2 separate regions of the Homo sapiens genome follow, and region 1 is linked to region 2. Evidence: fine-mapped QTL for protein levels in blood plasma. A gene starts in region 2. The other region holds a variant in brackets. All regions are shown on one strand. Distances are between the middles of the regions. Region 1 overlaps IL22RA1 (interleukin 22 receptor subunit alpha 1). Region 2 holds the start of IL22RA1 (interleukin 22 receptor subunit alpha 1).

The links. A credible set is the group of variants that fine-mapping cannot tell apart. PIP is the chance, under the fine-mapping model, that this variant and not a neighbour inherited with it causes the effect. The UK Biobank Pharma Proteomics Project read protein levels with antibody pairs (Olink). The fine-mapping took linkage between variants from a reference panel, not from the people measured, so its PIPs are less certain.
Region 1: its variant is the best candidate, but not a certain one, in a credible set for the plasma level of the IL22RA1 protein (UK Biobank, PIP 0.69).

Annotation. Positions count from the first base shown.
Region 1 is chr1:24,122,351-24,124,850 of GRCh38, forward strand. IL22RA1 (interleukin 22 receptor subunit alpha 1) reads right to left here. Exons shown (of 7, transcript NM_021258.4): 6 at 952-1,073. Among named protein-coding and RNA genes, the nearest start is that of MYOM3, 11 kb to the left of the region's middle. The variant G/A (reference allele first, on the strand shown) is at 1,421.
Region 2 is chr1:24,141,661-24,144,647 of GRCh38, forward strand. It overlaps IL22RA1 (interleukin 22 receptor subunit alpha 1), which reads right to left and starts at 1,480. Exons shown (of 7, transcript NM_021258.4): 1 at 1,380-1,480. The coding sequence starts at 1,422.

The sequences.
Region 1 (2,500 bases), 20 kb before region 2:
AGGGCTTTCCATTTTATTTTTATTTTTTGGGTGGGGGGTGGTTTTATTTTTTGGGTGGGGGGTGGTTCTGGTCTTCACTTGCTACAGCAATTCTAAAAGAACTGTAACAAAGGGCTTTCCACTTAACAATTAGTTTTGCCATTTAAAAATTTCTGTTTAAAATGGCCAGGTGCAGTGGCTCACGCTTGTAATCCCAGCACTTTGGGAGGCCGAGGTGGGTAGATCACCTGAAGTCAGGAGTTTGAGACCAGCCTGGCCAACATGGTAAAACCCGTCTCTACTAAAAATACAAAAATTAGCCAGGTGTGGTGGTGGTGCATGCCTGTAATCCCAGCTACTTGGGAGGATGAGGCAGGAGAATCGCTTGAACTCGGGAGGTGGAGGTTGTGCTGAGACGAGATCATGCCACTGCACTCCAGCCTGGGTGACAGAGGGAGACTCCATCTCAAAAAAAAAAAAATCTGTTTAAAAAATTAGTTCTGAATATTTGAAAATTGGGAGATTCCACAATATAATCTGAAACTCTGGCTTCTCTTGAAAAACATGAAGATCAGGCAGTGCTGGGCCTGCATTCCCACATGGTGGTGCCCGGCTGCCCATTTAGACAGGGCATGAGTGCCACGGCTCTCCTGGCGCCCACCATTCCTCCCTCGTTGCCTTGCTGCTCACTCAAGTCCCACACTACCCTCCTGGTGCTGGACACTTCCAAGCCATGTGGGTTTTTTATTCCATGTCTACTATTCCTGATCACCCACCCCACTTCAATGTGTCCTGAGACCTGCTGGGCTACACGTCCGTTGACTTTAGCTGGGACTGTGAGCTCCGTGAATGGAGAGAGCAGGCCCATCTCCTGCTTTGTCTGTGGATCCCTGCATTTTGGGGACAACTGGGGACCTCGGAGCCCAGGCCCTCCCCTGGACCTCTCCCTCCCACCCTGGGGGGATGGCTCACCAGGGAGTTGGGAGGTGCAGGCGGCTTGGTGACATATCTGTAGCTCAGGTAGCAGAGTACTGCGACGAGGAAGCCCATGGAGAACAGGAAGGCTCCGGAGAAGGAGTAGGTCCATGTCCGGTCTGGGAAACCAAAGGGGCCAGAGAAGGAAGCGTGAGGCTGGGCTCTGCCTGGGCCCGGTTGGGTCTGGCCCCACATGTGGATGCTGAAAACCCTCTCTGGCTGGGCTGGCAAGGCCTCTCCTACCGTCAGAATGCAAGATCACAAATGGAAGTCCATATACTGTACATCTAAATAGTCAGAATTTACAAATTATATTTTTACACTGTTAAATAAATAAAATGTTCGAGGTTTCCACCTTAACAAAAAGATTTTTTACAACCACCTGGGATGCCATATTTTAATTCAGAGTTCTTGGACTTCTCTAGGTACTGTGCTGAAGTGGGGAGGTACAGGGAAAGCCCGCAGC[G/A]CACTGCAGGCCCCCAGCCCAGCCCAGCCCAGCCCAGTTCCATCCCACACTGCCAGGGCCCTCACGCACATGTGTATAGATGCCCCAGCCCTCATGGTCGAGCTCATCCATGTCCCCTCCAAATAGCCACCTGTTGGTCATCCTTTGGGCCAAGGGTCTGCACTACATGTCAGCAGTGTCTGCCCTCATGAGGAAGTACCCCCAAAAGAGGACTGCCTAGACGGATCACAGGCTCTGGGCCATATGTACAGAGAGTTTCAGGGTCCCAGGTACTCACAATGTGATCTAGAAAGGAGGTCACAGGATCCAGATGGATCTGCCCCCTTTGTTGTATGGAGTCTTCATCTTGCAAGGAGGGGAATGGCCAGGACAGGGCCAGAGAAGGGCCTTCTAAAGTGCTGGGTGCAGGGAAAGGCCCCTTTTGCCTGAGTCTAAGGGTGGTCCTGCCTCCCTGGTAGGGTAGAGGCAGAGGGAGGGGAGAAGTGAAAACAGGGAGGCCTGTCCTCTCCACCTCCCTACCAAGATAAGGGGCTGGGCATCAGGGAAGATCTTGGTCAAGAAGGGAGCCTGGGAAGGCACTGTCCTGTCTAAAATGGAGGGGAGAGGGATGACTAGGGCTCTAGTGCCTGAGCCTCTCCCTGTGTCTCAGCATCTTTGGGATGGGTGCAGCCAGTTCCAGGCAGGACACACTTCCTGTCACCAGTCCAAGTGGGGCTTGTGAAGGACTTATGGAGGAAGAGGTTGTTGGAGTTTTTGGTAAAACTGACAGTTTGCAACAGAGGGAAGGTGACTCAGAGAGTCAAGACCCCTGCAGTCCAGGGGCCAGCTAATCACCCTCCCTCTCTTCCTGGCCCCTGTGCAGCCTCAGCTTGGAGAGTTTATCAATAGCTCCAATGACCTCGGCGATCACTGTGAACTCCGGGTACTGCTGGAACCTCTACTTCTAGCCCACTCCTCGATCCTCCCCTAGCCCACGAGCTTGGGCCTCTCTGGGTCAGCTTCCCACTTCAGTGAAACCCTGTCTCCTGTCACATGTTACCCCCATCCCTACTCCAGGAAAAAGACCCCACCCGAATGTCT
Region 2 (2,987 bases):
CCCCCTCTTCTCCCACCCTCCTCGCTCCTTTTCCTCCTCAAATCTATCATCCATTCCTCAGCCTGTGTTGCTTCGGCACTTCCCGGGTGAAAGTCTATATTGTGAAATCTGGGGAGACATGTGTTGTGTGGAGCCTGGCAGCCTGGCGGATTTATAAAAGGCAACTTGTTTTTTCACATTCATGTGGAAAAACAATGTTCTGTCAACCAGCTGGGAAGCTAAGGAAAAATACACAAACAAGAAACAATTCCACATGCTCTGGAGTCAGCCTAAGATTGGGGGGGTGAGGGCCCGGTGTGTGCAGCGCGAGGCAGCTGACCCTTGACAATCTCCTAAGGGCTATTTCTTGGGGTCCCCCATCTCAAAGGGCTGGGAGCCTCTAGGATTTCTAACCAGTATGGCTGAGGGTCTAAAGGGACGTGTCTTGGTGCCTCAAGGGGGTGCCTCACATCTTCCTGGAACGCCCAGCTTGATGCTGGGAAGCAGACTGGAGGGGGTCCCACAGAGCTGGAAGCCCTGGAGACGCAGGCAGCCCTGGCGGGACAGTGGCAGAGAAGGTGGGAAGCTCTGCCTTTTCGTGGGCCTCGTCCTGCACTTGAGCAAGGAGGGCCTGGCCGAGGCCATACCTGCTCGCCATCCTCAATCAGGACTATGCTTTGACTTCCTAAGGAAGTTCCCTGAATTTCATGCAATGCACCAGGAGAGCAGAGAGAGAGTCTAGGGTCTCATGTAACGTTCTCCATAATGATGAGCCCCCCACTCCGCTCACTTTATTGGCTTTGAACACTATGCCCTTAAGACCTGTTTCCAAATGAGTCCTGTGTCTTAAGACCTATTAATGTAGCAGACCTGGCCACTCTAGGAGAAAATGCTCTTTCAGATCTATGATAACAAAAGGGGCCAAAGAGGCCCTGCAGGGGCATGGAGGGAGGCAATAGTGAACTCAAGCTTCGTTTCCCCCGGTCCTTCCTCCTCCTCCCCTGTCAGGCCAGTGCCAAGTGAGAGGCAGAGGAAGGATGGTACAAACTGTGCCGACACCGTTTGAGGGACCGAAGGATGTCTGCCTCCTCCAGGCCAATTCTCCATTCACTGAGGTGCAGCGATCCAGCACCCCCAGTTCAGACAGCTGGCTATATCCCTCAAGACCCGAGGGTCCTTTGGGTCCCTGGAAGAACCCAGGGTCTGAGGCACCCTCTCATGCCCCCAGCAAACTAAGCTGGGCATTTGCTTCTCCGTGAACACCCGGCACCCTGCTCAGCCCTAGCAGGGGAGAAACTGAAACTGGCTATGCTCGGGCTGGGGAGGGTGCTGGGGAGATGACCCTGATCGTTGGCCCCTGGGATAAGGGAGGTCTGACCACAGGGTAGATGGGCACTCACCAGCCAGGGATCCCACAGTCAAGATGGTCAGCAGCGTCCTCATCGGGGCTGGCACAGAGCCCTCCCTTGGCCTCTACTCTGCCGTGCACAGAGAGAGGGCTGGGAGTCTTGGCGCCCTGGCAGCTGGCTCCACCCGGGCATGGGGCGGGGAGAAGGGGGTGGGTGGGACCTGTGCCGGTGGGGAGCAGGGGTACAAAGGTGTCCTGGCCCTGTGTGCTCTGGAATTCCAGGTTCTGGGCGGGATCTAAGGGAGTTCCCTTCCGACTTGCAGAAAACAGCAATAGTAACAGGCTGGCTTGTTTATCTGGTCCGGTGGCTGATTCATCCCAAGTGGTTTATCAAGGAGCTGAGGGGCAGAAAAGGCAAGAATAATCCACGATATGCAGCCTTATCAAAAAGCAATTTGGCACTGTGGATCAAAAGCCTACACCACATACATATCTTTTGCTTTAATAATTCTATTCCTAGGGGATTTACCCTGATGAAAATAACTGGACAACAGAGGGGGAAAAAAAAGGTCCCAGAATGTTTCTTGCAGCAAAGGAAAAGCTGTGACTCCTTTGCTTTTCTGGCAGGAGGAGATTGAGGGCACCCGATGCTCCTCCTTGATCCTCCATATCAAGGCAGGTCCCCACGCTTGGGGTGGGCTTGGGAACAGCTCTCCCCTAGAGAGGCCGTTGGGGGTGAGGAAGCCCAGCCGCTCTTACCTTGAGCCTTTGGGTCTAGGATCTGCAAAAGTTTAGAAAAAAAATGGAACTCAAACTTCAGTGATTCTTTCTGCTGTGCTAGAGATGGGGCTGAACTTCATGAATGGGGCTTTGGTTCGGGACGATGAAGATTCAGGCTGCTCTCCCATCATTTTGCCACGTAGGGCAGGATCTGCACATGAGCTTCGTGTGAATGAAGGGACAGGTGTTTAGGAAATGGTTTTCTCCTTCCTGCAGGGCCTGGAGAAGGTAGAAGGGCCCTGGGGCCTGGACTCTGGTCAGGGTGGACACGATTGGAGGGTCCTGCCCCTGGGGAGAGTTTGCCTGGCCCCAAGCACACAAAGGCAAGCGAAATTTTAGCAGGGATCCTGCCAACGGGTTGGGTGTAATGGGCTGTGATATGCTGAGATCGGTGTTTAAGTTTTTCTTTCCTGAATTGTAATTGTTATCAGCCCTGATTGCTAAAGTTTGTTTGACAAAACAGCCAAATCTAAGCTGTGCTTTGGAGGAATTAAGGTAGGGCCCATGCCAGTCATTTCCTGAAACTGCAGGAAACTACATTTTCTAGACTCCTTTATCAACTGCTTTCTGATAGGTTTAGCCCCTGGGGGAAGACTGGGGAGGCAGAGATCAGAGCATTTCTCCCCTCGTTTTCTGTTTGAGTGGCTTCCCCAGCAATGGCCATATCCCTCTGCAGTTCTGGCTCCCTCTGGACAGTCCATCAGCCAGGCAACCCCTTATGTCTTTCTTGTTCCTGTTTGGAGGCCAGCTCCTGGCTCTGGCAACACCTTCTCCCCTCATCTTTCCTTTCAGTTGGTGGGATGGCACAGCTTCCTGCTTTGGGGAAATCTCTGAACTGTCTGTCCTGATTAGTGTCCCAGCTCCTTCATCCTCTGGGTGA